4 linked regions of the Homo sapiens genome follow. The protein of the gene in region 1 interacts with the protein of each later gene in a pairwise test. Each region holds a gene or a part of one and is shown in the gene's direction. Other genes may lie near its edges.

Region 1 (6,995 bases):
TGCCTCAACCTCCCGTGTAGTTGGGACTATAGGCGCCCGCCACCTCGCCCGGCTAATTTTTTGTATTTTTAGTAGAGACGGGGTTTCACCGTGTTAGCCAGGATGGTCTCGATCTGCTGACCTCGTGATCCGCCCGCCTCGGCCTCCCAAAGTGCTGGGATTACAGGCGTGAGCCACCGCGCCCGGCCGGTTATTTGAGTTCTAAGCCAGAAAACTGAGAGCAGACACACACATAACGATACTTGGTTGCAAAATGGAAATAAAAAGCAATGTGTTAGGATAGGCTAGATTATGCTCCAGTAATAAATAATCTCCAAATCTCAGTAACTTAATACAACAAAAATGAATTTCTTGCTCATTCTACATGTTCAATTAGGGTTAGCAGGAAGGCTCTGACCATCACAGTAACTCAGGGACTTAGGTTGATGAAAGCTTCATCTTATTGATCTTCAAGGATCAATAAAACAGCGGAAACTGAAAAGGGCCAATTATGTACTAGCTCTTAAAAATGTCTGCGTTCTTCCCAGAAGTGACCACATGAGACTTCCTCTCACGTTTCAGCCAACGAAACAAGTTACATTTCACTGTTCAAAAGTCATAGCTAAGTTAAAATGGGATGAGGAAGAATAAAGTTACCATGTATCTACAAGGAGAAAAGCTTAACAAAAAGCAAGAAAGCAGCACATACAGTGACTGGTGGATTGCATTATTGTTCCACAAATATTACTCTCCCCTCCTGCACTCTGTGGGCAGACTGTACTTTTCTGCACCAATGACTTTGGACTTGGCCATGTTACTTACTTTGGTGAACGGAAAATGGCAGAAGCGAGACTGTGCCAGTTCTGAGCAGAGACCAGTCATCATGAGTCTCTGCCAACTCTCTTGCACTCCTGCACTCTGCCATGAAAATGACAGACTTAAACCAATCCATACCTAAACTATAGATCCTTGAGGGAGAAATGGATGTGTGTTGTATAATACTGAGATTGGGGAGTTCTTTGTTGAGCAGCATTGTTTCAGCAAAAAGATGACTAATACAGTGACTCAACACAAGGATTTCATGAGACTGGCTACTACACATATGGTTTCCAAGAAAGGATATGAAATAAGACCTTACTAGCTAGTATTCTAAGAAACGTAAAGCAAAATGAGATGGTGTTACATTATTAGTATACTAGCTAGATATAGAACTAAAATATAACTATCCAATTATTTACAAATTAAATAAGAAAAAAAATAAAAGGAGAATTTCTAGTGCTTTTGAGGCTAAGATAATAAAATTAGAAAGTCCTTTTATCCCAGGAAAATCGCCTTTAGTCCATTCCTGCTGCTATAGCAAAATAGCTTAGACTGGGTAATTTGTAAATAATAGAAATTTATTTCTCACAGTTCTGAAGGCTGGACCAAGATCAAGGTGCTGGCAGATTCAGTGTCTGGAAGAGCTTGCTCTCTGCTCCCAAGATGGCTCCTTGTTGCCACAGATGCTGTGTCCTCACATGGCTGGAGGGACAGAGGACAAAAGGGACCAGAGCAATCCTTTCAACCTCTTTTTTAAGAGCACTAATCCCATTCATGAGAGTGGAGTGTTCATGCCTTATCACTTCCTAAGACATATTCCTAAAAGGCCCCACCCTGTAGTACTATAACACTCGGTGTTAAGTACCAATGTATGAATTTTGAAGGCATACATACATTCAACCATAGCATAATTCAAAAAAGGAGAATGATAAAGGCAGAAAGCTCTTCATTAAGGCATTATTTATAACAGTCTAATATCAGAAACAGCATAACTATGCAATAGTAGAATATTTTAAGTAATCTATGGTCCTACTAATATTATAAAATATTGTACACTCATTAGAATAATAACTATGAACTTTCCCTAAAAACATGGACAAATATTTACTAAGTGAAAGAAGGAGAATATAAACATATACCTAAGCTGTAATCGTAATTATGTAAATAGATATTTAATATATATAGATAATGACTAAAGGGAATTTGGAGAAATTTAAACATTTGTGCTGTAGCAGTGGTTATATGGGTGAATATTTTTCTTCTGAAATCTAACGCAAAAAAATTGTTCTTTTGACAATAAGTATAATTTTTAAAACAACAAGGAAATTTCTCTTCTCAAGAATATACCCATGTGTGTAAGAAAGAGTTGGTGTTTGGATTAAAAGATGCATTTTTTAAAGAGTGGGAAAAAAATGCAACACATTTTTAATATTGAAGATCCCTGGGTATTCTGAGTAATCTATATAACTTTCTGTATTTTTCAAATGTTTTTACAATGAATGTGCTATAAACTTTTGAAAAAAGTTATTTTAAAAATACATGAACGTATTTTCTAGCGTCACTTCTGAGACCCCACAGCTCACCTAGTTAGTGCTATCATTTCTTGAATCCAGTGAGCTGCCTGTAGACAGAGTTCCTCTCCACAACTCGGTAGCCCATAATTTGATTTGAGACAAAGCTAAATATAGCCCCAACTTTGGTATGAAGGATGGGAATCTGACTCTCCCTGCCTTTTCTTCCCCCCCATCAGAGGCAACAGGATATTCTTTTCAAGACAGGTGGCCTGTGAGCCTTGTCTAAGATCAAACTGGACCTTGAAATTTTTCCTGGTAACATTTTGAGCTCTGGAGCAGTGTGGTCCTACCAATAAATCAAGTGTTGGAGGAGTCTAGACTAGGGGCTTTTTAGACAGTTCTGCTAAACCTTCAAATGTTTTGTTATCCTCCCCTCCCCACCCCTACTTTGTACTAGTATGTAGGGGAACCAATCCAAGAGATAACAGACAGATGACAGGTTCCCCCAAGAACACAGACTCCCCACAGTCTCACCAATACCCAGGCATGCCAGGTTCTTCCTGAGTTAAATGCCTAGGAGGCCTGAAAGAATAAATTCATCCTGGAGAAGTCTTGTGGGTCGTAGCTTTAGAAATTCAGGGAACATATCTCTGGGGCCACCCAATGGAGAACACAGCCTGTATCAGAACCTTAGCAGAGACTTTGGGCCTTTTGGGGTCTCAAATTTATCATCTCTGAAACAAGTACAACGAAATTAACATTGCCACATGTGGGCACTATAAAGCCTTTTTCAGATAAAAAAAAAGGTCAGTGATAGTGCTAATAATAACAGTGATTATGTCATTTAATAAAACGGTCTTATTTGAAAGCTAAAAAGGAGCTTCAGGGTGGCAAGCACTCTAATTATAGTATGTCTGCCTTGTTTAAATCTTGATACATAAGTACATGGTACAGGGCCTGAGGCAATGCCATCTCCAAAGAGGCCTTTTCCATGATCTTAAAACAGTCACAAGGGAGTGTCGAGGTCCTGATGGCTACTGTCTTGAGGCTTTTCTAGTGTTCTGGGAGTCAGGAAGCTTCTCCCTCCTTGAAGCTATTGGTAGAGCCCAGTTGCTGGCGAAACTGAAAAACGAGGAGGTAGAATACCCTAAAACAGGAGATGTCTGGGATACAGGCAGCTAATAGGGCTGTAAGGTTTTGTTGGGATGCTTCCCTTCCTGATGAAGGGTCCTGTCCCTGGATTAATGGTGAAACTGGCATGTCACATCTCTAGGAAGACAACATCGTGTTCCATGACCACGTAGGGTATACATCTGCATTCAGCCGGGATTGCTCCTAAACCTTCCTAGACTCCATCTCTGGCTCTGGGGTTACCTGTGGGTGGGGCGATGCAGACACACAAGAAAACCTCCTCTACAAATTCTTCCTGTAGTTGGTTGATTGTATTCTAAGACCTTCGTTGGGATGGGCGAGGGACGGGGCTTGGTACCGCGTCCTCTAAGCTCTCTGCCCTCTGCCGTCATCATTCATCTGAGCCAGCGAGAGAGGGGTCGGGGAGACGCGAGGGTGGTTCAGGGGGCGTGTAACCTGGGCCGATTCTGCCCCAGCACACTGGTTGTCGGGAGCCCCGCCTCCGCTCGCGGTTGACAGCTCAGCTGGTGCCGAGCAACTCGTGCCAGCCAGTCGTGTCTCAGCCTGGAGAGTGCGCGCACCGCGGCCCGGGCAGCCGCTGGCTCCAGCTCACGAAACAGCCCCGGGCGCCGCGCCGCTCTGAGTCCAGCCTCCTACTGAGAACAGTCCCTCCCTTGTGCGGGTCGCACGGCTAGCCGCAGGTTCGGCCACGTCAAATCCATTTTCTAAAAAAGCAGGGAGCAGAGCTCTCTCTTCGCCGCCGACGCAGAAAGGAGCTGGGGAGGAAAAAGCTGCTGCCTTTTGCGCTGGAGATTCGTGGGCAAGGCTTCTCATTTTCCCAGGCTGCTTCCCCTCCCGGGTGAGGAGCGTCCTGAGACTAAGGAAAGAGCCTGGAAAATGGAGCAGACCTGGACGAGGTAGGTGGGCTGTTTCCTTCTCGCCGCGCTCCAGACTTGGTGGTCCTCCTCCCTCCCCTCCCCCAGCGCCCTTAGGGAGAGAGAGGTCGCCCCTCACCACCAGGGTCCCGTGACAGCTTCCCTTTTCTGTAGCCTCGCCCTGCCTGGTTCCCAGCCCACCTCTCTTGGTCATTTTCACATGTTCTGTTTTACGGGGTTTCCCTTGCTTAATGACTCTCCCCTCCACCGAGTCCTGATGTTAAAAATACCCAGGGAGGCCGCCTGGAACTTTCTGTAGAAATGGTTCTCTGTCGTTTCCTTGTTCGTGTGGCTAGAGGGATTCCAGTAGGTCTTCTTGAGAGATATGTTTGATGTCAGATGCTTTGAACAATATCAGGTTTATTCTCACCCTGCCACGTTTTCCTTCTCAGCCTCATCTGTCACTACTCACACAAAGGCAAAGGGACTGAGTGAGCAGAGCCCAGCAGCACTCATCTCCACAACCTCCAGTTGGAGCCCACTTGGGGGAGGAATGGAGAAGGAAAGAGATCAGGGCACCACACTGCTCAGGCTTTATTGAGGCCAGGCAACAGTTGGCTTTTAGGTCAGATTTTGGAGATGGCCTGTGAAACTGCGTTTTCTTCCAGTCCTTCCCCCAGACACACTTTAAAATGAAGCCCCATTCAAGGAAAGGGTAAGGATAAGAGACCATGTATTGAGACAAAGACTTCGTTTCTGTTTTTTAGTGGGTGGGAGGGTAGGGAGACTATTCCAGCGGTGTCTCTATAACAGATACGCTTCCATCTGTGGGATTTAGCTTTGGAGAATTGGGGTGGGGCCAAATGAGCGCTCTGACTCCTGAGAGAGTGAAGACGGTACAAACACAGAAGGTAAATTTGGGGCTTATGCAAAAGACTTGGGTGCTTTTAGTTGATTGCTAAGCTCAACAGGAGTGAATGGTATAATGTGAATATTAAAGAAGGAGCAAATTGAAGCTTAGGGTTTGTTGACAGAAGAAGTAGGCTGTCTAGATTCTGTCTAGATCAAAAGTGATGATTTTACTTTTGGCTCCTTTCTGCTCCTCTTGGGCCTCTCCGAGAGGGCTGTGCTTAGTTCTGGGCATCATTAGATAAAATAAGTACAATCAAGAGACAGGAGGGAACTCAAAGCCATGCCTTGAGGGATGGCCAAAGGAAGGACCTGGGACTCCTGAGTCCGGAGAAATGACGACTGGGAGTGGGGAGGATGTGGTAGCTTCCTTCAAATTTCCGAAGAGCTATTGGTGGTAGAGGGATTGAATCACATTAGAATCTCTTAGGAGGACAGAACAACCGATGCAAGCGAGTTGTTGGGAGGCGAGTTATGGCTCAGTGTAAAGAAAAAGCTTTCTGGCCAGGTGCAGTGGCTCATGCCTGTAATCCCAGCACTTTGGGAGGCTGAGGCAGGCGGATCACCTGAGGTCGGGAGTTCGAGACCAGCCTGACCAACATGGAGAAACCCCATCTCTACTAAAATACAAAATTAGCCGGGCGTGGTCGCACGTGCCTGTAATCCCAGCTACTCCGGAGGCTGAGGCAGGAGAATCGCTTGAACCCGGGAGGAGAAGTTTGTGGTGAGCCGAGATCAAGCCATTGCACTCCAGCCTGGGCAACAAAAGCGAAACTCCGCCTCAAAAAAAAAAAAAAAAAAAAAAAAAAAAAAGACCAGGCGAGGTGGCTCACGCCTGTAATTGCAGTACTTTGGGAGGCTGAGGGGGGCGGATTACGAGGTCAGGAGATTGAGACCATCCTGGCTAACACAGTGAAGCCCCGTCTCTACTAAAAACACAAAAAAAATTAGCCGGGCGTGGTGGCGGGCGCCTGTAGTACCAGCTACTTGGGAGGCTGAGGTAGGAGAATGGCGTGAACCCGGGAAGCGGAGCTTGCAGTGAGCCGAGATCGCGCCACTGCACTCCAGCCTGGGCGACAGAGCGAGACTCCGTCTCAAAAAAAAATTAAAAAAAAGCTTTCTAACAAGTTAGCTGCCTGGGCAGTATGGGCAGTAAAGAGATTGTTGACCCTGGAGTTACTCAGGCAAAGGCTAGATGACCACTTGATGGTGATGGGAGTGAGTGTATCAGGGCCTTTTGCTCTCTGCCAGTGTTTTTCACACTTGAAGAAAAAAGTATTATTTATTAAGTTTTAAAAATTTTATATTTACATGTAACAATTTCAGACAAATTCAGAAATGATTTGGAAAAATCGCAAATTATATATTTACAGTCCAATTAATTTGACAAACTGAGTATACTCATGGGATGGGCATTCAGATAGAGAAAGGGAACATTACCAGCATCCCTGAAGCCCTCCTGATGACTTCAAGGATAATCATTATCCTAATTTTTAACACCATAGAATAATTTTGCCTAGTTTTGAACTTTATGTAAATGAAATTATACACCATGTACTCTTTCGTACGTGGCTCCTTTCACTCAATCTTTTGCTTTTGGAGTTCTATACTGTTATATGGTACTGTAGTCCATTTATTCTTGCTTTTAAATAGGCTTCTATAGTGTATAAATATATCAAATTTATTTGTCCATTCTATTCTTAATAGGCACTTGGGCAATTTCCAGTTTGGAGCTATTATAAACAGTGTTGCTATGAACATTTCTGTA
Region 2 (7,715 bases), on another chromosome or scaffold:
CCCTCGCGTCCCCGCCCCTTCCTTTCCCGCCCTCCCTTGCGCTACGGGGCCGCCTGCGCAGGCCCGCAAGGGGTGCGAGCCAGAGTCGTGGGTAAACCCCCCGCTCGCTGGTTGGGCGACCTTTTGAAGTGACAGGGAGAGAAGAATTTTTTTCTTTAATCCCACCGCCTCTCCTCGCTGCTCCCTTTTGCACTGAGGCTTAAGGTTTGAAGACTCGAGGGTAAAATTGGGCCGCTTTCATTCTAGTTTGGACAACGGTTTCATCTTCAGCAAAAGCCTCTCATTCGTAGCCCCCCCCAGCTGGAAAATGGTCTGCTCTGCGAATCGGTAATGGCGGCGGGGCGGGGCGGGTCCTCCCGGGGAAGGGCGGTTGCTCATGAATATGCAGTTCTCTTGCTGAATATGCATGAACAAACCAAGATGGCAGGACCAGTGGCTTGTCCGGAAGTAGCCGATGTTTGTCAAACGGCCCCCGGAGACGGGTGGGCATCTCCTGGCCTGTAATGCCGCGCTGTACCGAGCCATGATCCTAGATCCATGGCCTGAGCCTCTCGAAGAGACTTCAGCTGGGAGGCCTGCTCTGGAAGGAGGGTGGCCACTGTCCGGGAGAGATCACGGGACCGCGACAATCCGAGAAAAGCAGATTAGCCATGGGGCGGGCCACGAAAGTCCTGGGGGATTTGGGGTCAAGGCATCTGAACATTAGGAAATCCTCCACTTTGTAGAATATTTCAGGAATAAAATGGGGGGCGGGGATCCCAAGGGGTTCTCCAATGAGAACGGTCGTAGGACTTTCCACTCTCCCTCCAAAGCAGAGACGACACCACTGCAAGCCACATTCAGAGTAATCCTTGTTTGATGTCAATGTCACGTCACCACCCCAAGGGGGGGGCACAAGCACGAGGAAAGGAAACCTTTGCCGTGAGGGGAGGGGTGGGGAGGCACGCTCCCCTCCCCCACCGCAGCTGCTGGCTCTGTCTTTGCCGGAACACTCCAGCCCCAATGCTCTTCTCTTTGCTGCTGAGTGAAGTCCTCCCCGTGGCCCACGGCCTCCCTGCCTCAGCCGTTTGGATCTGCTCCTCAGACTTTACCCCTTAGTTATGCCCTGATTCCAGGACCCAGCCTGGTCTCCACATCCCTTGGTCCCAGGCTGGCCCCAGGTCTTCCAGGTAGTCCCTCTCCACCAAGTCCCCAAGTCACCCTTGACTCTGAGAGGTATCCCTCTCCCACACCAGTTCTTTTCCAGTCACTTCTCCTCCCATGTTTGTCTTCAGTCTTTGCCTCTATTTATCCCTGTCCCTCCCAACCCCCGGGCTCCCAAGTTCTATCTCACTCCTCCACCTTCCCTTCCCTCTCACAGCTGAGGTTCCAGGCTGTGATGATGGCAATGCTGCCCAGCACAACCCCTGCCCCCACGATGTCAGAAGGTGCCACAGTCTCATGGAGCATATAATACTGCAGTATAAGGGCCACCACCACCTCGGAATGCAGGACAGCGCACACCAGGGCAGGGTGGGCCTTGGTGACCGCATAGCTCACACATGTGAAGGAGACCAAGGCGAGGATCCCCACTGCCCCCACACAACTCCAACTCGGGAGATCACTGGGCAACACGGGGGGCTGCAGCACAAAGAGGCCTGGCACAGAGCCCAGCAGCCCCACCAAGCCAGATAGGAAGGCCACTGTTGGGAGGCAGGAGGGAAAGTGCAGAGAACGATAGACCAGAAGCCCCAGGGACAGCGCCAGTCCTCCCACGAAAGCCTGCCCATAGCCCAGGGCGGTGTAGACACCCGTGATCCCCTCCTGTAGTGTCCAGAGTCCAGGTCCCACAATGATGATTAGTCCTAGGATGCTGCCCAACAGTCCACACCAGTCGTAGCCACTGAGACCCTGGCTCTCAAGGCAGAGGGTGAGGACGGCGGAGCAGACGGTGGAAGAACCTTTGCGAACAGTGGCAGCGTTGCCAGCGGGCACCACCTGAACCGCACTGTAGGCACATCCAATGCTGAGGACGTTGAGCAGGGCATAGAAGTAGGCCCGGCCTCGGATGTCAGGAGGTCCCAGAAGGGGGTCGCCACGCAGTTTAAGTAGCAGGGCAATAGGGAGGTGGAAGAGGCATCGACAGATGAGCAGCTCCAGCGAGGGCAGGTTGGAAGCCTGGTAAGCCATATGAGAAAGGGGGCCCACGAAGCCAGCAGGCAGGCCCCCACCCAGCAGGGCCACCAGCAGGCCATTGGTGGCATCAGAGGGCTGGCAGCACTGGTGCCAGCGGAGGCTGGGTGGAGCGGAGGGCGGCGATGGGTGTGTGGAGTCAGGCGGGTTCAAGTAGGGGTGACTGCCAGCCTGTTAGGGAGAAAGGAGCTCAGGGTAGACAGCAGCCGCAGCCCAGGCGACCTGGGGCAGGGCAGATGCCAGGATGGGGTCTGGGACCCTGTGGGACTGTACAGTGTTGGGCTATCTTGCTGAGGAACTCTTCGGAGCTAGAAAGGGCCTAAAAGATGAGTGAGATGTTATAATGTGGGCCTGGAGCAGGAAGCAAGGAGTGAGCAGTCCTGGAGCATCGTTTCCCTGGGTAAGTTGTTCCTGGGAGGAGAAAAAGGACCCAGGATGCTCTCTCGGATTGAGGAAGGGGAGGAAGCCTCAGATGCTATGCATCTGTATGATGCCACAGGTTCCAGAGACATCTGGGTACACCATTATGAATTCTATTTGTGGGTATCTCTGAGACAGCTAAGTTTTAGGAAAGGAGGGGAAATGGAGCAACCAGGAGCTATAGGGAGGGAGTACTAGGCCCCTGGCCCCCACACTCACCATCTTTCCTTGGACTTTCTCCTCTCCTCCTGGCTCAGGGAGCCTGGGCCCCTCAGAGCTCCAGCCATTGTGACATGGTTGGAGTGGGGGTGGGGTTCTTCCCTGGAACTCTCCTGAGGTGGTAGCACGCCTATTTTCCCGCTGAGTCCAACTCTGCTTCTTTTCTTTCTTTCTTTCTTTTTTTGTTTGCGACGAAGTTTCCACTCTTGTTATCCAGGCTGGAGTGCAATGGTGTGATCTCATCTCACTGCAACCTCCACCTCCCAGATTCAAGCGATTCTCCTGCCTCAGCCTCCCAAGTAGCTGGGATTACAAGAATGTGCCACTACACCTGGCTAATTTTTTTTTTTTTTTTTGGGACGGAGTTTTGCTCTTCTTGCCCAGGCTGGAGTGCAGTGGTGCGTGCAATCTCGGCTCACCGCAACCTCCACCTCCTGGGTTCAAGCAATTCTCCTACCTCATCCTCCCAAGTACCTGGGATTACAGGCATGTGCCACCACACCCCGCTAATTTTTTATTTTTCGTAGAGATGGGGTTTCTCCATGTTGGCCATGCTGGTCTTGAACTCCTTACCTCAAGTGATCCACCCCACCACCCCCCGCCTCCCAAAGTGGTGGAATTACAGGCATGAGCCACCGTGCCCAGCCCAACTCTGCTTCTTTTCTATTTATGTCTCCATGACTCCAAAGTTTGTCTGATTCTTTTATTCTTTTTATGGCTAGCTCTGTGGCTTTACATTAATTTGTTTATTTATATCTTGCATGGTTTCAGAGAGGTTTTTTTGTTGTTGTTTTTTTTTTGAGACGGAGTCTGTCTCTGTCGCCCAGGCTGGAGTGCAGTGGCGAGATCTCGGCTCACTGCAAGCTCCGCCTCCCAGGTTCACGCCATTCTCCTGCCTCAGCCTCCCGAGTAGCTGGGACCACAGGCGCCCGCCACCACGCCCGGCTAATTTTTTTGTATTTTTAGTAGAGACAGGGTTTCACCGTGTTAGCCAGGATGGTCTCGATCTCCTGACCTCGTGATCCGCCCACCTCGGCCTCCCAAAGTGCTGGGATTACAGGCGTGAGCCACCGCGCCCAGCCTCAGAGAGGTTTTAAGGCAAGGAGCTGTGAACCCTGGCTCCTCCATCTCCTTAGTTTTTAATTTTCCAGCACCAGGGAGGAGTTCTTGGGATTGTCCCTGTGGAGTTTCAGGAATGTGTTTTTTCTGTGTGTGCTTCCACCTGGTGTTTTGTTGATGCTGTCCCCAGAGGCCGACACCAAGGCCTCTGCATTTATGTTCAAGTATACAGATGTGGATCTATCTGCTGGTGGGGACAAAGTACCCAGCCAGCTTCATGTGTTCATTTGCGCTGGTGGTCGTTCGTGTGTGCCCCGTATGCAGGGCCAGGGCCTTCTTTTTCCGCGGCCTGCTGAGCTTTCCTGCGCATTCCTGGAGAGGGTGTGTGTGTGTGTCCAGGGCTGGCCCTCTTTGAGTGTGCCGACCCTGGGTCTGTGAGTCCCACCGGGCCTGATTATGAGTCTGCCATGTCATGTCTGCACCCTGAGAGCCTGTGTGTTATGCTTTCAGGCAGTGTGCACCGCTGAGTGAAGGGCGTGCAGGAGGAAGGGCGGAGGGAGCCCTTTCCCTGGGGGTCGGTGGTCTTGCGCCCCTGCCGGGATGCTGCAGCCCGGCCCGCGCCCCGCTCGGTGTCCACCCGCCCGGTGGCCCAGCGCGGCGCAGTGTCATGCCGCGGGGGTCAGTCCTGGGGAAGGCCGTCGGGCGCTCGGAGCTTTGTGTCGGTGTCGGCTGCGCTGCGCCGGCCTCCTCTCGGCGGCGGCGGCGGCGGCGCTGGGGGGGGACTGTTTCCGGGGGTGGGGGTGGGGGTAGGACCGGGGCGGGGGGAGCCGATGATGTCAGCGGCGGCGGCGGCGGCGGCAGCGGGGCCGGGCCGGGGCCAGGCGCTGGGGGGGCCAGGGCCGGAGCTGGAGCCGGAGCCGGAGCTGGAGGCGGGCAAAACCGGAGCGGCCGGGGGCGGCCACGGTGATGAGCCGGGCCTGGCGGACGCGGCGCCATCGCAGTCAGGTGGGCCCTGGGGCGAACTGGGCAGGGCCAGGGCGGACCGGAGCCAACTGCCAGGCCCCCTCTCCGCTGCCCGGCGCTGCGGGAGCCCCGACCGCGCCCCGCGCCCAGACCGCTCTCCTTTGGGGTTGACCTGGGGGCGCAGGGGTCGGGGGCTGAGCCTGGCCCCGCCCCCGGGCGCGCACGACGCTGGGGGGCGACTAAGGGGGCCCTGGTATGGCGTCCGAGCGAGGGGCGGCCGTGGGACGCGATCGCCTGGGGCCGTGGAAGGGGAGGTGCTCACTCCCTCTTTGAAGGGTTAATTCTGCAGCCTAATGGCCCCCTCCCCCCGTGGGGCAGATTGGGGGTGGGGTGGGGCGGGTGTGAGCCCGGGCAAGCGCTGCAAGCTGCTGGGAGGGTGATGGCGTAGGAGCCAGGCAGAGAGGGGGAGGGGTGGGCCGCCGAGCGCCCCAGAGTTGGGGTGTGCGGGGTGCGCAGGGCGAGCTGGGGCCCCGGAACCGCCGCGCCGTCGGGGCAGGGTTGTGGCTGTGAGTCTTGGAGATCGTGTGTCTTGTGCTGTGTGGTGGGGCAAGGTAAACCTCTCCTGGGCACCACCGTTTGCTGGCAGCCAGGGGTCTGGGTAGGGCCCTCCCTGGGCCATGGAGATAGAAAGCCAGGAAGGGTGTCCAGTGTTGTGGGGCAGAGTTACAAGACGAGCCCTGTGGCTTTGGGTGACAGATGGGTATTCTGAGCAGGGCACAGCATGCTGGGTGCAGAGTTTGTTCGATGTGGGGCTGTATGTTTTCTACAGCATGTGTTTTCTCGCATGTGTGTCTTGTGCTGCACCTATGACCTGTTTATGAACTGTTTTCTGCAGAGCTGGCATGCTGTATGTGTTGCGGAGGGTGCCAGGATGCAGTGTATGTGCCCTTTTGGAGGGGGCGGTTGTGGGCCTTTGAGTCAGAAGGCGTCACGTCTGGGTCCCATTTCTGTGGCCCTGCTGAGGTGTGGTCCAGTGGTGAAGAGGGCGATGGATGGGTTTGCGTGTCTGTGATGAGCGCGTTGCATGGGGGCTGCGCGTCTAGAACTCAGATCCCAAAGATCATGAGAGGAGCGAGGAACCCCGGGGTATGTCTCAGGGGCCTGTGGGTCAGTTGGCACTGGTGTGAGGGGCTCGAGGTGGAATGCGCCAGTTGTGTTTATGGGATCATGGGCAGCCAAGCGAGGGGAAGGTTGTGTGTTTGCAACATTCTCCACAGGATTCTTTTGTGACGTTGTTTGTAGGAGCCTGTCTGGGCTGCTGAGCTGGGAGGCAAACTGGTCAGAAAACACATGTGGGGAGGGAGGTGGCGTGACAAGGGCAGTGTGGGCCTCAGACCCAAGAGGCCAGCCGCAAGCAGGCTGTGTGTGCGTGCCTGCCGTCTGTGTGCTTAAGTGGCGGTGGGGCTGCGGAGGGGATTTGGTATGAGGAAGGCGGGAGATAAATGCAGGGTAGCGCATGGAGGCCGGCGGGAGGCATGGGTGTTGTCAGATGGCCCAGCTAATCTTTGCAGGGTCTGTATGTTTGCCCCTCATGAGCCTGCCCAGCGTGTCAGGGTCACCCGGAGGAGAGGCTGGGCGGCCACAAGGGAAGTAAGCTTAGACAGAGAGGCTCCTTGGCCATGTTTATGTAAAGGCTGGGTGTGACTCTTGTCACTAAAATGGAAAAAAGAAACGTGAAGTTTTCAGCCTCCTCCTGCTTCACCCTCTCCCTCTCTCTGCCCCCCTTGTGGGTATCTCTGACGCACACTGGGCCCCACTCCTGCGACGGTGGAAGGGCCTCAGAACAGAATTCGCTCACTAGGCAGATTCCTCAGAACAGGTTTTCCTCACCTTTGGGGACTGGGCCCTTCTAGGGGTGTGTGTGCAAGTGCATTCCAAGCCTGCACACCACTGTCTACTGTGCCCGGCCCCACTGGAAGGATGTGTGTACGTGGGGGAAGGGAGGGTGCTGCGGACAGGCCCTCCGGCATGGGGGGCTGGGAAGGGGTGGCTGCCGTGGGAGCCTGCTCAACAGGTGCACAGTGACGGTCTGGTGAAGAGAAAGGAGCCATGGTCCAGGGCTGAGGAGCTCTGGCGTCTTTACCATTCCCTCACTGGCACTTGATCTGAAGGAAGCTCAGTTCCTCATCTGCAGAATGGGGCTGATTGTCTGCCCTGCGTATCTTCCAAAAGCACATGGGAAACGGACCCGGAAAGTGGCTATAGTCTGGGGGCTGTGCCTATGCCAGCCCCTGTCAGCCCTCCCCCAGGACTGGGAATTCCCTTCTTGGGGCTTCGCTGATAATAATGGCAGCACACACTTGCTTAGCACTGACCGTGCACCAGCCTGTCCTCAGGGCACTTATATGTGGCCACTCTGTCCTCAGAACAACACCCTGAAGTAGGCACTCTACCTCCCTTTTTCAAGTGAGGCAGCTGAGGTCCAGAGAAGTTAAGTAATCTGCCCCAAGTCACTTAGCTAGTAAGAGGTGAAGCTGTATTTGAACCCGGGCAATCAGGTTGAAGATCTTGTGCTCTTAACTACTGTACTCTGCTGCCTTCTGGAACATTCAGTGGATGGTCCTTTCTGTGCAACTCCCTCCAACACTCTTCTCCCCAGTTGCTGCAGAACTTAGCATTTGCAGCAGTCCATTTCAGAAGACCCGGATGCTCAGGGATCCCCAGCTGAGGGCATGAGAACCTGAGTCTCTGCTGCTGTGTAAGGTGGATGCTGGCCATAGGAGCACAAAAGGTTGATGAGTCAGAGGAAGGAATGATCGTTCTCATCCTGTGGATCAGGGAGGGCCAAGAAGGAGGTGGCCTTGGAGTCAGATCTTAACGTT
Region 3 (7,020 bases), on another chromosome or scaffold:
TGAGTGGGAAGGGAGGCTGTGGCTTGGGAAAGGGCAGTGAGTCCAGGCGGAGGCTGCTCTGGCCTGAGAAGAGCTGGCTGCCAACCACGGGCTAGAGTCTAACCTCTCTGGGAGAAGGAGCAGTGGTTATTGAGCCCCTACTGTTCAGAATACAGGAAGACCCCAGCATACATTGTGTCGTTTCCTCTTCACACAGTAGAGGGGGTGGTAGGATCATTTTACATGCCTGAAAACTGAAACTTAGCAGTTTAGGTCATTTACAAAGAGCTGAGTTAGGCCGAATATGGTGGCCCACGCCTGTAATCCCAGCACTTTCGGAGGCCAAGGCAGGTGGATCACCTGAGGTCAGGAGTTTGAGACCAGCCTGTCCAACATGGCAAAACGCCACCTCTATTAAAAATACAAAAATTAGCCAGGCGTGGTGGTGCATGCCTGTAATCCAGCTACACAGGAGGCTGAGGCAGGAGAATCGCTTGAAGCCGGGAGGCGGAGGTTGCAGTGAGCCGAGATCACGGCACTGCACTCTAGCCTGGGTAACGAGAACGAAACTCCGCCTCAAAAAATGCCAAGTTAAACCCTGCTCTGCCTGACTTCAAAGCCCTAGTTTGTTTGATCTGTTAAAAATGTACTGACTGACTTGGCATAACAAATGAGACAGGCTTTCCAAGTTATGGCCTCAGCTGTTGGGAAGATGCTGGGTTTTGCAAACTCACATGAACATCAGACATTTCCTGTAGCAGCAATGAACGACAGCACCTCTTATCCTAGCATTCAGTGACGAGGGCTTAAAGTCCGCTGGGTGGGAGCCCATCACAGAAATCTGCAAGCACTTCAGATCAGGACTTTTAAATGTTTCTAGATGCTGTGGCGATTAATGAATTACAACGTCAGGTAAAGAAATTACACTTAAAGGCTGGACACGGTGGCTCATACTTATAATCCCAGTACTTTGGGAGGCCGAAGTGGGCGGATCACTTGAGCCCAGTTTAAGACCAGCAGGGCAACATGATGAAACCCCATCTCTACTAAAAATACAAAAAAAGTAGCCAGGTGTGGTTGTGTGTACCTGTAGTCCCAGCTACCCAGGAGGCTGAGGTGGGAGGATCACTTGAGCCCTGCAGTGAGCTGTGATCACGCCACTGCACTTCAGCCTGGGTGACAGAGCAAGAACTTATCTCAAAATAAATAAATTAATTAAATAAATAAATTACAGTTGGTTATCATATTACAAAAAAATACAACTATTCAGTTACTGCGGGCTTCCTATGAAATTCTTTCTCCAGGTTGTGCTGAGGATCTGTGCCTTCATATTTCAAAAAAGTATTTCTTAAAAAAGGCTATACAGTTTCTATAACCTTTATTTTCCTATAACCATACCTCTGTCAAAGTCTGATGCTTCTTAGCTAAAAATCACAGCAGAAAAAAAGTCCACTGCTAACAATATTGGACTCAGCCATGGTTTGAGGTTGAGGGTGTGGATTCTGGGTTCCTACCAGCCTTTGGCTTTTACTAATGGGGCAAGTTTCTTCACCTCTGTGCCTCAGTTTCTTACCTGTAAAATGAAGATGATAATACTTTGTTCAGGTCATTGAGCAGACTGAGTGATTCCATGTAGTATTTACAACAGTGATTCACCTGTGTTTACAGTATGAATGCTTTTATTAGTGAAATGGGTCCTCAACTCAATCTGGGAGCCACGAGCTACGGTGCAGGGCTCTCGGGCATCCCCACCGTGGTGCACTGCAGGGAGGGAGGGAGGGTGGGTGGGCTGCCTGGCACACTCTCACCCAGCCCCTCTGCCTGTGTGTTCTCTCTTCAGGCTGCTGCCCCATTGGAAGATTACTCCCCAGGCTTCCCTTGCCCCAAGCAGTGAGCTGACTGGAATGGTACCCCGGGAGGCCCCTGAGTCTGCTCAGTGCCTGTGCCCTTCCCTCACCATCCCAAATGCCAAGGATGTGCTTCGGAAGAGGCACAAGAGAAGGAGCCGACAGCACCAGCGGTTCATGGCCCGGAAGGCCTTGCTGCAGGAGCAGGGGCTGCTGAGCATGCCTCCAGAACCAGGGTCCTCCCCACTGCCCACCCCTTTCGGGGCAGCGACAGCAACTGAAGCTGCCAGCAGTGGGAAGCAGTGTCTGAGGGCTGGATCTGGCAGTGCCCCATGCAGCAGAAGGCCTGCTCCCGGGAAAGCCTCAGGGCCCTTGCCCAGCAAGTGTGTGGCTATCGACTGTGAGATGGTGGGCACGGGACCCCGAGGGCGGGTAAGCGAGCTGGCCCGCTGTTCCATTGTGAGCTACCATGGCAATGTCCTCTATGACAAGTACATCAGGCCTGAGATGCCCATCGCTGACTACCGTACCCGCTGGAGTGGCATCACTCGGCAGCACATGCGCAAGGCTGTCCCCTTCCAGGTGGCCCAGAAAGAGGTAAGGGCAGGGATGGGGACTTGTTTGGGAGGTGTGGTGGGCTGGAAAGAGCCACCCTGGGTTTGAATCACCACTTTGCTTCACTGGGGGCAAGAAACCTTGGGAAAGTCACCTAACTGCTCCAAACAGTAGGTTCCTTCTCCATAGAACAGGGGAAATAAAAATAAAATCCTGACCTTGCCTCCAGATAAGGATTGCTGGCCTGTTGCACAGGACAATGTAGAAAGGCTACACCAACTGTAAGGTGATAAATAGCTTACATTTTAGAGTTTGCTTTCTGTTATAAAAGTTGTACGCATTGATATAAAATTTGTAAAGCCCACAGTGGCATCACGTTCAGGTATGGATGTTTTGGCATATTTCCTTATGTTAGTTTCTTAGTGCTTAGAAAAAATTAATTAGTGGTTGGGACCACACTGATGCACCAGGAATTCCCAAACATGCTTGACCTTAGAAACACCTAAGTCCTTTTTAACAATCTAGGATCCTTGTCCCCAGTTCCCTCCATAGAGTTCCTGATCCATTAGGCTTGGGGAGGGCTCTGACCCATGTTCCAAAAAATCATCACACTGTGTAGACTTGCACCATAAAGCCACAGGGCTTAAGGGGAAATGGAGAAAGGGAACAGTATTAAAAAGGCCATCAGTGACACCCCAAAAATAAGATAGAAACCTAATAAAAAGGTAGTCCAGTTTTACGCATCTTGTTTCTTTTTTTTTTTTTTTTTATTCCACACATCTTAAATGGTTAAGAAATGCACAATACACCAATAAGTATGGCACTTTACCTTGAAAAAGACCTGAACTTGCTTGTGGAAAGAGGAGTCAGAAAGGTTGCAGCTTGAGTTTCTGTGAAGTGGTTGAAGGAGAGTTCTTTGAAGTCAGACAGGAAGTGTGACACCAGCTGTGGATGGGTGTGGCTCATCACACAGGTGAACTAGGGTTGCTGGGAGATGTTTGGGCTGTGTGCATATTGTGTATGCCCTCTTGGCTTAGTTCAGTTGGATGCAGTTTTCTGCGTTCATTCAGTGTTTCTCAAGGATGAAATTATGCACAAGCAAAGGTGAAATTTGCATTGTTCTCAAAATGTGTCATACATCAATTGCATTGAGACAAATCTGCATTTTCTAAACAAGCCTTGTAACAGAACCACTTTTTAACACTTCTGGGTTATTCTTGGGATTAGGCAAGGTTGGGAAATACTGGTGTACACTATCTCGTGTCCTACTTTTTCACATAACATTGTGGCCCGAGCATTCCTTTGAAATGATCGGAGGTTATTTTATGTATCAAGCAGGCCAATCAGTAAGAGTAGCAACAAGAGGGGAGGTGTGTGGTGAACCCTCCAGCTCCTTGGTCCCTTCCATTGACCTGGTTGGTGGTGGTCCCAAGAGCAGGACCACTTTTTGTCTGCCCAGACTCCGAGCCACTGTGGGTTGTGCTTCATCTCTTTCCACTTCATGGCTGACTTGGGGGGAGGGGCAGTGTGGTGAGTGACCAGCATGGTGGCATGTCCCTACTATAAAGTCTCAATGCATCTTATCCATCTGCCATGAAAGCTGGGTTTGGGGATAAACATATGTTGCCAGCAGAGGTAGGCTGTGGAGGCCCGCAGCTGGTGATAAGGAGAGCCCAAGCCCAGCTAAGAGGGCTAGAGGGGGTTGCTGGCCCATGGCCCTGGGCGTGGCCTCCCTGGTGTATGAGGAGGGCCACCCAGCAGGGAAGGGAGGTACACATTGTGCAGGCAGCCAGAGCTGAGCAAGAGAGCAGGTTAAGAGGATGAGGAGGAGTTGGTACACAGCAGGGCAAGGGGGCAGAGTCCTGAAGACAGGGATTATGGCCCTTAATGCTCATAAGAGCTGCTGCTATGGTGTGTCTACCAGTGACAGGCACGGTTCTGTTGACTTCACCCAGCTGGTCTTTATTGATCACCTCCTGTGATAAGTAAATAATCAATAAATGTAATGCTTTCTACTACAGGAAAAAGATAGGCATTAAAAAAAAAGAATAAATGTGACGCTTTCCTTGGAGCATCACTAAGAAGTCCAACATGGTCCCTGCACTCACAGACCTTACAGTGCGGTGGGGGAGAGTTGGGTGGAGTGGGAGGCCTGGTGACGTCTTCCAGGCTGAGAGGAGAGCCAACACCAGCAATAGAGTTGCTTGTATCTGGTAACAGGAAGACTTCCATCCATGACCTCGTTTAGTCCTTAGAGCCACCCCACGGAATGCTGCTGGCAGTGTTTCCCTTTGACAGGTGCAGAAGACATAGGTATGCCCCTGGGTATAGACAGTAGAAGGGTCTGGGTTCAGACTTGGGGCAGCATGGTTGACTGTGGAGCTCGTGATCTCCCCACTCGGTGCTGCCTCCCCCCACAGGGATCCATGCATCTATTGGCCAGGGGTTCTCAGGGCGTGTCTCCTGCCAACCTGATGGGGTGTGGGGTGACCTCCCTGACTCCTCTTTCTGCTCACAGATCCTTAAGCTCCTGAAGGGCAAGGTGGTGGTGGGGCACGCGCTGCACAACGACTTCCAGGCGCTCAAGTATGTCCACCCTCGGAGCCAGACCCGGGATACGACCTATGTCCCAAACTTCCTCAGCGAGCCCGGCCTCCACACCCGGGCCCGGGTCTCTCTAAAGGACCTGGCCCTGCAGCTGCTGCACAAGAAGATCCAGGTGCGTGGTGGGAGAGTGGCTGGAAGGGAGGGAGGCCCGCCTGGCCTCCATGCCACCTGAGCCACAGACAAGGCTTTGGGCTGTGTCTCCAGCCTCCTTGTCATTCTCTTCCCTAGTCCAGGTCCAGGGACCTTGCTTAAATGGGTCTCCCTCCTGTACACGCAGCTCCAGGTGTTTCTCTCCATGATCCTTCTTCCCCAGTGTGTACTGCGATTCTCCCAGAACACATTCTCCTAGGCCGATCTCTTCCAGATCTGTCCCCTCCCTAACTCTTGGTTCTTGCATCCCTGAAGCATGGTCTCCCATCCCCTACTAGCAGACATAGAGCCTTAGATCAGGAGGAGCCAGTACCTCTTGCTCCTGTTGGGCTTCACATTTATTATTCATCTGATCTGCAAGCCTTTGAAGCAAGAGATTTTTAGCATGCCTTATATTTGAGGAAAACAGGCTTGGAGAAGCTGCATGGCTTATGGTGTACAGTTGAGGTTCCATCCCTTTTCTGTGAACCTCCATTCTGAGCATACGTATTCTTGGGCCTGCACAAAGAGCCCTGGGAAACTGGCCTTGCTTCTTGGGGTAACAGGCCTCTCACTAGGCCTGCAGGCAGTGATGTGTTGGCTCTCGTCAGTAGGTGGGCCAGCACGGGCACTCATCAGTAGAAGATGCCACGACAGCCATGGAGCTCTACCGGCTGGTGGAGGTGCAGTGGGAACAGCAGGAGGCCCGCAGCCTCTGGACCTGCCCCGAGGACAGAGAACCTGACAGCAGCACAGACATGGAACAGTACATGGAGGACCAGTACTGGCCCGATGACCTGGCCCACGGCAGCAGAGGAGGAGCCAGGGAGGCACAGGACAGAAGGAATTGAGAAGGGGGCGGGGCTCCCTGGCTGGGCTTCCGGTGTGGCCGGTAGGAAGTGGGGGCCAGGAGAGCAGCGGGCACTCCTTCCTGGGCAGGGTGGGGCAGGATGCAGTGAGCCAGCCCCAGGGCCAGAGGAGTAGGGGTCATCTGTTACCTTGACACCCTCTGCACACAGCATAGCCCTCTCTCTCTCCAGGGCTGTTGGTTCTTTCTTCTGACTCCTGTGGTTTTGCTAATGGCACTTTACAGACTCCATGGAGATGTCAGGTGGACCATCTTCTAGGGCCCAGCAGGAGTAGGGAATGTGCCAACAGACTGCCCAGGTTGCCGTGGCCTTCCCCACCCCCCAGATCTCCTGAGTCATCATGCTGTGCTAATGAAAGGGATCATATCATCCTCTCTGGGGATGGTGGGTGGGGGTGTCAATATCCTGGAGCTCCCTTACCCCAACTCAATGACTTGGGGGTAAAGTTCTCTTCCTTTTGTTGCCTACCTCTTCCTCCACTCATTTGGGTTCAGAATAAACATGTCCTGAAGTTAAAGAGGAGTTAAGTCCTAAAGGAGGCATTTCTTCCCCACCTCCCTGACCTGGAACTCTGGCTACAGCCATTGTAGGAACTCCGTGCCTGGCCTGTCAGCTCCCTGCTAGGCTACAGTGGAATAGCAGAGCCCACAGGCTTCTCGTGGGGAGTTGGCTCCTTAACATTTCTTGGCAACAGAAAGCCCCAGGCACAGCTCAGGGAGGAGGGAAGGCAGGTAAGCTTTGGACGAGAACTGGCATATTTATTTTGACCCAAATCAGGGATTTCCCCAGTCCACCCAGTACTGGGCTCTTAAGCAAAAGTCTGAGAAACAAGACAGTGGTTTGAATTCTGGGGCCTTTGTGTAGGATTGTGCCTGACCTTTATTTATTTATTAACAGCAGGGCCACTCGTCTAGGGCAGTGGAGTCTGCGTGTCTCCTGGGGCTGGGGCAGGGCATTGGCAGTTACGCAGTGGCCCTGAACCTGGTCTGGTGCCCCCGAACCTGGTCTGATGCCCCCTCAGCTCTTTGACAATC
Region 4 (7,576 bases), on another chromosome or scaffold:
GGGTTTCACCATATGAGACAGGGTTTCACCACATTGGCCAAGGTGGTCTTGAACTCCTGACCTCAGTTGATCCGTCCGCCTCAGCCTCTCAAAGTGCTGGGATTACAGGCATGAGCCGCCACACCTGGGCCTAAGTTGTATTTTATGTGCACTAGGAGAGTTGGCCATTAAGAGAAGCCCCGTGCTAAGTCATGTTGTAGTCTCAGTAGTCACTCCTCAGTTGCTCAGATTTTTACATACTCCCTTTCTTTTGGTCAGTGGGTAGGGTTAGGGGTAGGCTAAGGATGGGCAATTCCAGGCCTTTCCCCTCTGTATCCTGGGAACCTGAGATGCGGAGGTGTGAAAAAATATGCCTGACAATGTCAGAGGAGAGGGATGGCATGGAATGGGAGGCAAGGTAGGGAGAGAGCATTCCTTCCTTGGGGGAAGAGAAAGAGCTGGGTTTATAGTTATAATGCATTTTCTTTGTAGGAAACTTTAGAAAATTTAAGATAGATGAAAGAAAGACCAAGCCAGCTGCAGTGGATCACGCCTGTGATCCCAGCACTTTGGGAGGCCAAAATGGGAAAATCAGTTGAGGCCAGGAGCTTGAAACCAGCCTGGTCAACATAGCAAGACCCCGTCTCTACAAAATAAAAATTAAAAAATTAGCTGGGCATGGTGGTGTGTGCCTGTAGTTCCAGCTACTAGAGAGGCTGAGGCAGGAGAATTGCTTAAGCCCAGGAGTTCGAGGCTGCAGTGAGCTATGATCACACTACTGCACACCATCTTGGGCGACAGAGTGAGACTCTGTCTCAAAAAAAAAAAAAAAAAAAAAAAAAAAAAAAAAGACCAAAATCCCTTGTAATTTCACTACCACAGATAACCACATGGAACCTTTCAGTGTAGTTTTATTTCTTTTCATAAATACACATGTACATTTTAACAAAAATACGGATACACTGTATACAAGGTTTGTAACCTCCCTTTTCCACTTACCAACTTGTCCTGAAGGGAGAGTTTGTTTTCTTTTCTTTCTTTCTTTTTTTAAATGGGATATCGCTCTGTTGCCTGGGCTGGTCTCGAACTCCTGGGCTCAAGCGATCCTCCCCTCTCAGCCTCCCAAGTAGCTGGGACTGCAGGCATGCACCACTGCACCCAGCATGAAGGGACAGTTTGAATTTGGACAGGGAGCCGATGGTGAGAGCCCAGGATGGCAGAGGGAGGCCTTACTGCTAACAAAGACTAGTGTAATCCAGTTTGGCCAGAGGTGGGAAGGGCACGTGGGAGGACCAGTGGAGGTCAGATCAGGGAGGGAAATCAAGGCCAAATGGTGCAGTGCCTTAAACGGCAGATCTTGGGGTTTGGACTTGATTTCTCATGATGTCGTCACTAGGAGTTACTGCAGCTTTTGGAGGGAAGCCAGGCTTGAGGAGGGTTGTGCCTGGGGATGAATGTCTGGCAGCAGTGTGTGAGGTCAGCTGGAGAGGGTGAGGCTGGAGGCAGGGAGGCCCGGCTGAGAGCTACTGAGGGCCAGGTTCAGATCTGCTGCCCAAGGGGGATCAGGTGGGATGGGATGAAGGGTCAGAGATGCCTCTGGGAAGAGGTTCTGGAGCCATTGCTGGATCCTTTGGAGCCACAGGCAGCCGTTCTTCCTGGGCAGGAAGGAGCGCTGTCCAGCTTCTGATTTCTAGGCCTGTCATCTGTTCAGTCTTAACCCAATTACAGTAGAAAGAATGAAATTAATTTATTTGCTATTTTGAGCTGGGCATGGTTGTCCATGCCTGTAATCCCAGCACATTGGGAGGCTGAAGCAGGTGGATCACCTGAGGTCAGGAGTTCAAGACCAGCCTGGCCAACATGGCGAAACTGCATCTCTACTAAAAATACAAAAAATTAGCCAGGCGTGGTGTTGTGTGCCTGTAATCCCAGCTACTCAGGAGGCTGAGGCAGGAGAATCACTTGAACCTGGGAGGCAGAGGCTGCAGTGAGCCAAGATTGTGCCACTGCATTCCAGCCTGGGCAACAGAGTGAGACTCTGCCTCAACGAAAAAATAAAATAATTTGCTATTTTGCATTCATTTCTTTGTCCAGCAAGTACTTCTTAAGATCTGTGATGTGCCAGGGGCTGTGTTGATGGGAGCAGAGCGGGCATCCATATTTTCATCCCTTTCCTCTCCCCAGGTACGGAGATACAAGGGCCTCATGGACTGTGCCAAGCAGGTGCTGCAAAAGGAAGGCGCCCTGGGCTTCTTCAAGGGCCTGTCCCCCAGCTTGCTGAAGGCTGCCCTCTCCACAGGCTTCATGTTCTTCTCGTATGAATTCTTCTGTAATGTCTTCCACTGCATGAACAGGACAGCCAGCCAGCGCTGAGTGCAGGAAGGACCCCAGGTCTTCCCTGGAGGCAGCCTCCTGAAGGAAGGAAGATTCAGTCTCCACTGAGAGGTGCCGTCTGGCCCTTCCCTGCAGGCCAGCTGCCCCAAGCGGGGTAGCAGCCTTGAACCCACCCAGCTGGGACACCACCAGAAGGTCCAGGGCTCTCCCCATGAGAGAATCAGAGGGAATGCAGGACGTGGTCTATGGTGAGCCAACGACACAGTGAGAAGGAGCAGGAAGTTGCTGTTTCTCCTCTGACCAGCCCACACTCCAAAGGAAACAGACGCCATCCTACACCTATCAGCCCTGCCTGCCAGGAGAACAGAACACACTCCTGGTCTGGATGGGGCTGCTGCTTGAGTGCAGAGGGCTGCGGTAGGCCCTTTGCAGGAGTCAGGTCCCTACACTTGGCCTGTTTTTCCAACCTATTTAATAGACATTAAAGCTAAACACACATTCCTTATCTTACTCCATCTCCCCTGGCACATCTGCCTACTCACAAAGTATGAGGGAAAGGACTCCTGCCTTCCTCAAATCCCATGTTCTCCATAGCGGCAGCCCTTGGCAGCTCTGCTTCTAGTGCTGGGGGAGACTCCAGGCTGAGCCAGTCACTTTCTGGGCCCCGTGCCCAGACCTTCGTGTCTGCAGACACACCACCACCCAGGCTGTCCTCTCCCAGGACCGGGCTGGTCATGGCCGTGGGGCTCCATGGAAAGCAGATCCCAGCGCCCGTGCAGGAAGTGGATGGGCCATGCTGTGGGCAGGCGTGGGTGAAGGTGCAGCCTCTCCCCAGTCTACCTCACTGACTCCTCTTTCACCCAGAGCTGGGTCAGCCTTGCTGGGTGAGGAGCTATCAGCAGGACAGGTGGCATCAGCGCCCACTGCCTGCTCCTCAGTGCAGAGCATGCTGCGGGTGCATCCTCCCCTGTAGCCCCAGAAGGGCCGTGGCTCTGAAGCAGCCCACTGATGGGGATGGCAGAAGGAAGGGGCGGGCACGTAGCCTGGTGAGGGCACAGCTGGTGCCTGGGGTGTTACCAGAGCAGAGGGACACCCACAGGCGGAGAGGCAGAGGAGAAACCAGTTCCAGGCTGAGGGGAGGTCTCCAGAACATGACCTCCACCCTTCCCTCCATCTGCCCGGCCTGTAGGGTTGCTCCGACCTGGGAAGCCCTCCATTCTGCCTCCCTCTCCAGCCTTGGAAAGAGGCACCCACTGGGAGCCGGCGCTGGCCCTGGCCCTGGCGTGTGGGTCCTGGGCTCCTCCTCGCACCATCCTTCCCTGCCTCTGGTCTGGGATTTTGGGGTCTGTCTGGGCCCTGAATGCTGGGGCTTCCTGGCTCTGGGCTGCTGGTTCCCAAGGTCCAGGCTGCGGCGGGGGCCACGAGGATGCAGCTGCCTGAATGCATTTTTTATGAAATTCCGTTAAAGTTTCTTCTCTTCATCTTTCCTGCCCATTGGTTTCTTTTGCTGCAGCTGAGCGTTCTCTTCCTCCTCCGTTTTCGGTGACCACTTTGGCGGTTCTTTTAAAAGGAGGCGAGAACGCGGGCAGCGCCGGCAGCGCTCCTCCCGGTCGCGCGGCAGGAGCGGCGGCAGTTCTTCCCCCACTTCTAGGTGCCCTCCTGTCACCCAGGGCAGACGCCGGGCGGTGGGGTCCGCGCCACTTCAGGGGCATTCGCAACAACCGACGGCCGCGAGTTGCCAATGGGGCCCCTTTCTCGGGGCTGCCCCTATGACCTGAAACTCGCTTCGCCCATGTCCTCCTTGGAGCGGGAGAGGGTTGTGGCTGGCCCCGGCCCTGCAGCCCCTGCCTTCTCTACCTGGGTTGGGGGAGCGGGGAAAGTGGTGCGACCAGGGCTGATGCTGTTCCTCCTGCCACCAGGTCCCCACCACGCGCTCTGCAGGCTCTTCCCACGCCGCGCAGCCCAGCGGTGTCTCCCGGCCCAGTGCACCTGAGCTCCGGGGAGGGCTGGGTGCGGGGCCACGCGCAAGATCGAGGTGCCGGCGGGTCCGGCGTGGGCCCGGACACGGCCCAGGCGCACCGGGTGAAGGGGTGACGAGCCAAGCGAGTTCCGCTTGCGGCTGGGTGGCAGCGTCGCAGGGTCCCACGCAGGCGGCGCGGCTTCCGGGGCGGCCTGGAGGCCAGGGCAGTGCCCCGGGGGCCCGGCAGGTGGCGCGGGCGAGCCGACCCTTCCCCGGCGCCGCGCGAGGAGATGAGCTCACGGCGGGCCCCGCAGCGCCGGACGCTGGTTGCGCGCTCCCAGGCGCCGAGCGGCCCCGGGCACGCGCGCGCGCCACCGGCCCGGCAGGTGGGTCCCGGCTCCCACGCCGCCTCTCCCGCCCGCGGGACCCTGGGCCGTGGGCTCCGCAGCCCGCCCTGTGCCTCCGGGAGGGGCGTTCCGGGCGCGGGGGGAACGGCCGAGGGCTGGAGACCCTAAAGGCGCCTCCTACGGCCAGAGGGGAGCCTCCGGCGGGAGCCACCTCTCCGGGGCGCATCATCCTGCCCCCCAGTAAGAGGAAGGCTCCAGAATGGAGCTCAGGAATTAGGAGTCTCGAGTGCGTAGGGCCGGGTTACTGCCACTCGGGAGCCGATCCGACCAGCCTGTCCCAGGGAGAAGCTGGCACGGGTCTGGGGAGTTCAGGCTGCTCCCGGCAGGGGCGGCGGACAGGGCGCCTGCGTCCCCACCCACGCAGGCCGGCCCCATCCGGGGGATGCAGCGGCGGGTGTTGAGACCGAAGGACTCGGCGAAAGCCAGAAAGAGAGGGTTGGGGAGAGGGGCTCGGAGACCTGCTGGGGACAGAGTCGCACCGCTTGGAGTTCCCAGCCTGGCCCTCACCCGGCATCTTCCTGGGCCAGCAACGTCAGGCCGGTTTATTTAAGCAACTGTAACGTCCGCCCGCACACACCCTGCCCCAGTCTACTCCTGCCTCCTGCTGGGACTGGAGGGTGGGCGCTTTCCTGCTTCAGCTTCTCGCTCTTGTGTAATCCCACAAGCGAGGGATTTCTAAACTGAGCAGCAGGTGCCTGGCTGATGCCCAGTCCCCACCAGAAGCCAAGCCTGGTGGGCCTTCAGCCAACCACCGCACGCCACGGACCGCCCAGGAGTCCCTGTCCCGAGCGCGCCGTCAGCCCCGTCCAGGGCCTGCAGGACGGAACCCGCCCTGCGCTCCACACCTGAGGCCGCTCCCTTCGCCTCTTCTCCTCAGGTGCTGTCCTTATTCCCAGCCCAGTCAAGAGCTACCGGGGCTGGCTAGTCATGGGGGAGCCCAGTAGAGAGGAGTATAAAATCCAGTCCTTTGATGCAGAGACCCAGCAGCTGCTGAAGACAGCACTCAAAGGTGAGCACGGGACCCCTCCTGAGCTGGGGTCAGGAGCTACAGAGAAGGGCCCCTGTGGGCAGCACCAGAGGCTGAGCCTGGTGAATGCCTCCACCCCTCCCCTCATTCTCTGACGATAGGAGTCGGCAACGTAATTCTTGAACTGGAAGACAAGCTACATTGAGGCCATTATTTTGGAGTATGAATCACAGTCACCTCTCAGACTGTAAAGACTGTTTTAAAAGTTTAACCATAGGGCTAGGCGCAGTGGCTCATGTCTGTAGTTCCAGCACTTTGGAAAGCCAAGGTGGGCAGATTGCTTGAGTCCAGGAGTTCAAGACCAGTCCCGGAAACATGGTGTAAACCCCATCTCTACAAAAAAAAAAAAAAAAAGAAAGAAAAGAAAAATTAGCCGGGCATAGTGGCAGGCACCTGTGGTCCCAGCTACTTAAGATGCTGAGGTGGGAGGATTGATTGAGCCTGGGAGGGTGAGGGTGCCATGAGCCATGATCCTGCCACTGCACTCCAGCCTGGCTACAGAGCGAGACCCTGTCTCAAAAAAAAAAAAAAAAAAAAAAAAAAAAAAGTTTAACCATAAAAAAAAGAACACGGCTCCTGCCCTTGAAGCGCTTACATTTGAATTGCTGGTTTCTGTGCTGCCATAGCCCCGTCTCTTGAATGCACAGTTGCCTGCTTTGAGACAGAAGATGGAGAATATTCCGTTTGCCAGAGGAGCTATAGTAATTGCTCTCGCCTGATGCCTTCCCGCTGTAACACGCAGTACAGAGGTTTGTCTTCAACTAATAATTAGCAACACCCATCATGTGTCAAGCCGAGCCTGTTGGGAGGCCCTATGTGGCCCTCTCTTGTTGGGGGTTTGCATGTGTGTAGTATAAGAACACTTTTTCTTGTGAAATTGCTGTTGGAGGCATGTCCTGGTCAGTATTCCTTCCTCAACCTAGTGCCAGGAAAAGATGTGTTTCCTGAGAAACTACATTCTTACTTTGATTGGTCCCTACTAGCCACATAACCCTCCCCATTTTCTCTGACTGGGCAACCAGAAGACAAGACAGCTAAAGCTGTTTGTATGGTTACTGTCCTCTGTACGGTTTCTTTTCCCTTTTTTTTTTTTGAGACAGTTTCGCTCTTCTTGCCCAAGCTGGAGTGCAATGGCACGATCTTGGCTCACTGCAACCTCCGCCTCCCAGGTTCAAGCAATTTTCCTGCCTCAGCCTCCCAAGTAGCTGGGGTTACAGGGGCCCGCCACCGTGCCCAGCTTATTTTTTGTATTTTTGTAGAGACGGGGTTTCATCATGTTGGCCAGGCTGGTCTTGACCTCCTGATCCTGACCTCAGGTGATCCACCCGCCTCAGCCTCTCAAAGTGCTGGGATTACAGGCATGAGCCACCACACCAGGCCCTCTGTATGATTTCTTTTATTTTTTTCTTTTTTTTTTTTTTTTTGAGACGGAGTCTTGCTTTGTCGCCCAGGCTGGAGTGCAATAGCATGATCTCGGCTCACTGCAACCTCCGCCTCCCAGGTCCAAGCGATTCTCCTGCCCTAGCCTCCCAAGTAGCTTGGATGACATGAGATGACGCACGAGCCACCACACCTGGCTAATTTTTGTATTTTTGGTAGAGATGGGGTTTCACCATGTTAGCCAGGCTGGTCTCAAACTCCTGACCCCAGGTGATCCAACCACCTCGGTCTCCCAAAGCGTTGGGATTACAGGCATGAGCCACTGCGCCCGGCCATGATTTCTTATAAGTACCATGCGCTAACCAATTGCACCACTGGAGCCACTGTCCTCTGTATGATTTCTGATCTCTTTCACTTCAAGCATATGAGTGCTCTACTGTAAATATCTCAAATTCTTAGAAGCGGGTGGACACAAATGTGATAAAGCAG

What was found.
Region 2: the proteins of PDE4DIP (region 1) and ZBTB4 interact in binary tests that used the Homo sapiens proteins (3 or more experiments, as listed by UniProt).
Region 3: the proteins of PDE4DIP (region 1) and AEN interact in binary tests that used the Homo sapiens proteins (3 or more experiments, as listed by UniProt).
Region 4: the proteins of PDE4DIP (region 1) and MIF4GD interact in binary tests that used the Homo sapiens proteins (3 or more experiments, as listed by UniProt).

The regions. Positions count from the first base shown.
Region 1 is NC_000001.11:148,840,435-148,847,429, forward strand, and holds the start of PDE4DIP (myomegalin), read left to right. Parts: upstream 1-3,993; 5' UTR 3,994-4,340; coding exon 4,341-4,360; intron 4,361-6,995. UniProt on the Homo sapiens protein: Functions as an anchor sequestering components of the cAMP-dependent pathway to Golgi and/or centrosomes.
Region 2 is NC_000017.11:7,476,616-7,484,330, reverse strand, and holds the start of ZBTB4 (zinc finger and BTB domain-containing protein 4), read left to right. Parts: upstream 1-4,699; 5' UTR 4,700-4,875; intron 4,876-4,898; exon of another isoform or gene 4,899-5,444; intron 5,445-7,715. Other genes in the region: SLC35G6 (solute carrier family 35 member G6), read right to left, coding at 1,330-2,343, 2,806-2,814. UniProt on the Homo sapiens protein: Transcriptional repressor with bimodal DNA-binding specificity. Represses transcription in a methyl-CpG-dependent manner.
Region 3 is NC_000015.10:88,624,327-88,631,346, forward strand, and holds part of AEN (apoptosis-enhancing nuclease), read left to right. Parts: intron 1-1,819; 5' UTR 1,820-1,883; coding exon 1,884-2,423; intron 2,424-4,899; coding exon 4,900-5,100; intron 5,101-5,728; coding exon of another isoform or gene 5,729-5,731; coding exon 5,732-5,968; 3' UTR 5,969-7,020. UniProt on the Homo sapiens protein: Exonuclease with activity against single- and double-stranded DNA and RNA. Mediates p53-induced apoptosis.
Region 4 is NC_000017.11:75,268,227-75,275,802, reverse strand, and holds the start of MIF4GD (MIF4G domain-containing protein), read left to right. Parts: upstream 1-4,571; 5' UTR 4,572-4,659; exon of another isoform or gene 4,660-4,906; intron 4,907-5,080; exon of another isoform or gene 5,081-5,236; intron 5,237-5,557; 5' UTR 5,558-5,607; coding exon 5,608-5,689; intron 5,690-6,333; coding exon of another isoform or gene 6,334-6,456; intron 6,457-7,576. Other genes in the region: SLC25A19 (mitochondrial thiamine pyrophosphate carrier), read left to right, coding at 2,164-2,352. UniProt on the Homo sapiens protein: Functions in replication-dependent translation of histone mRNAs which differ from other eukaryotic mRNAs in that they do not end with a poly-A tail but a stem-loop. May participate in circularizing those mRNAs specifically enhancing their translation.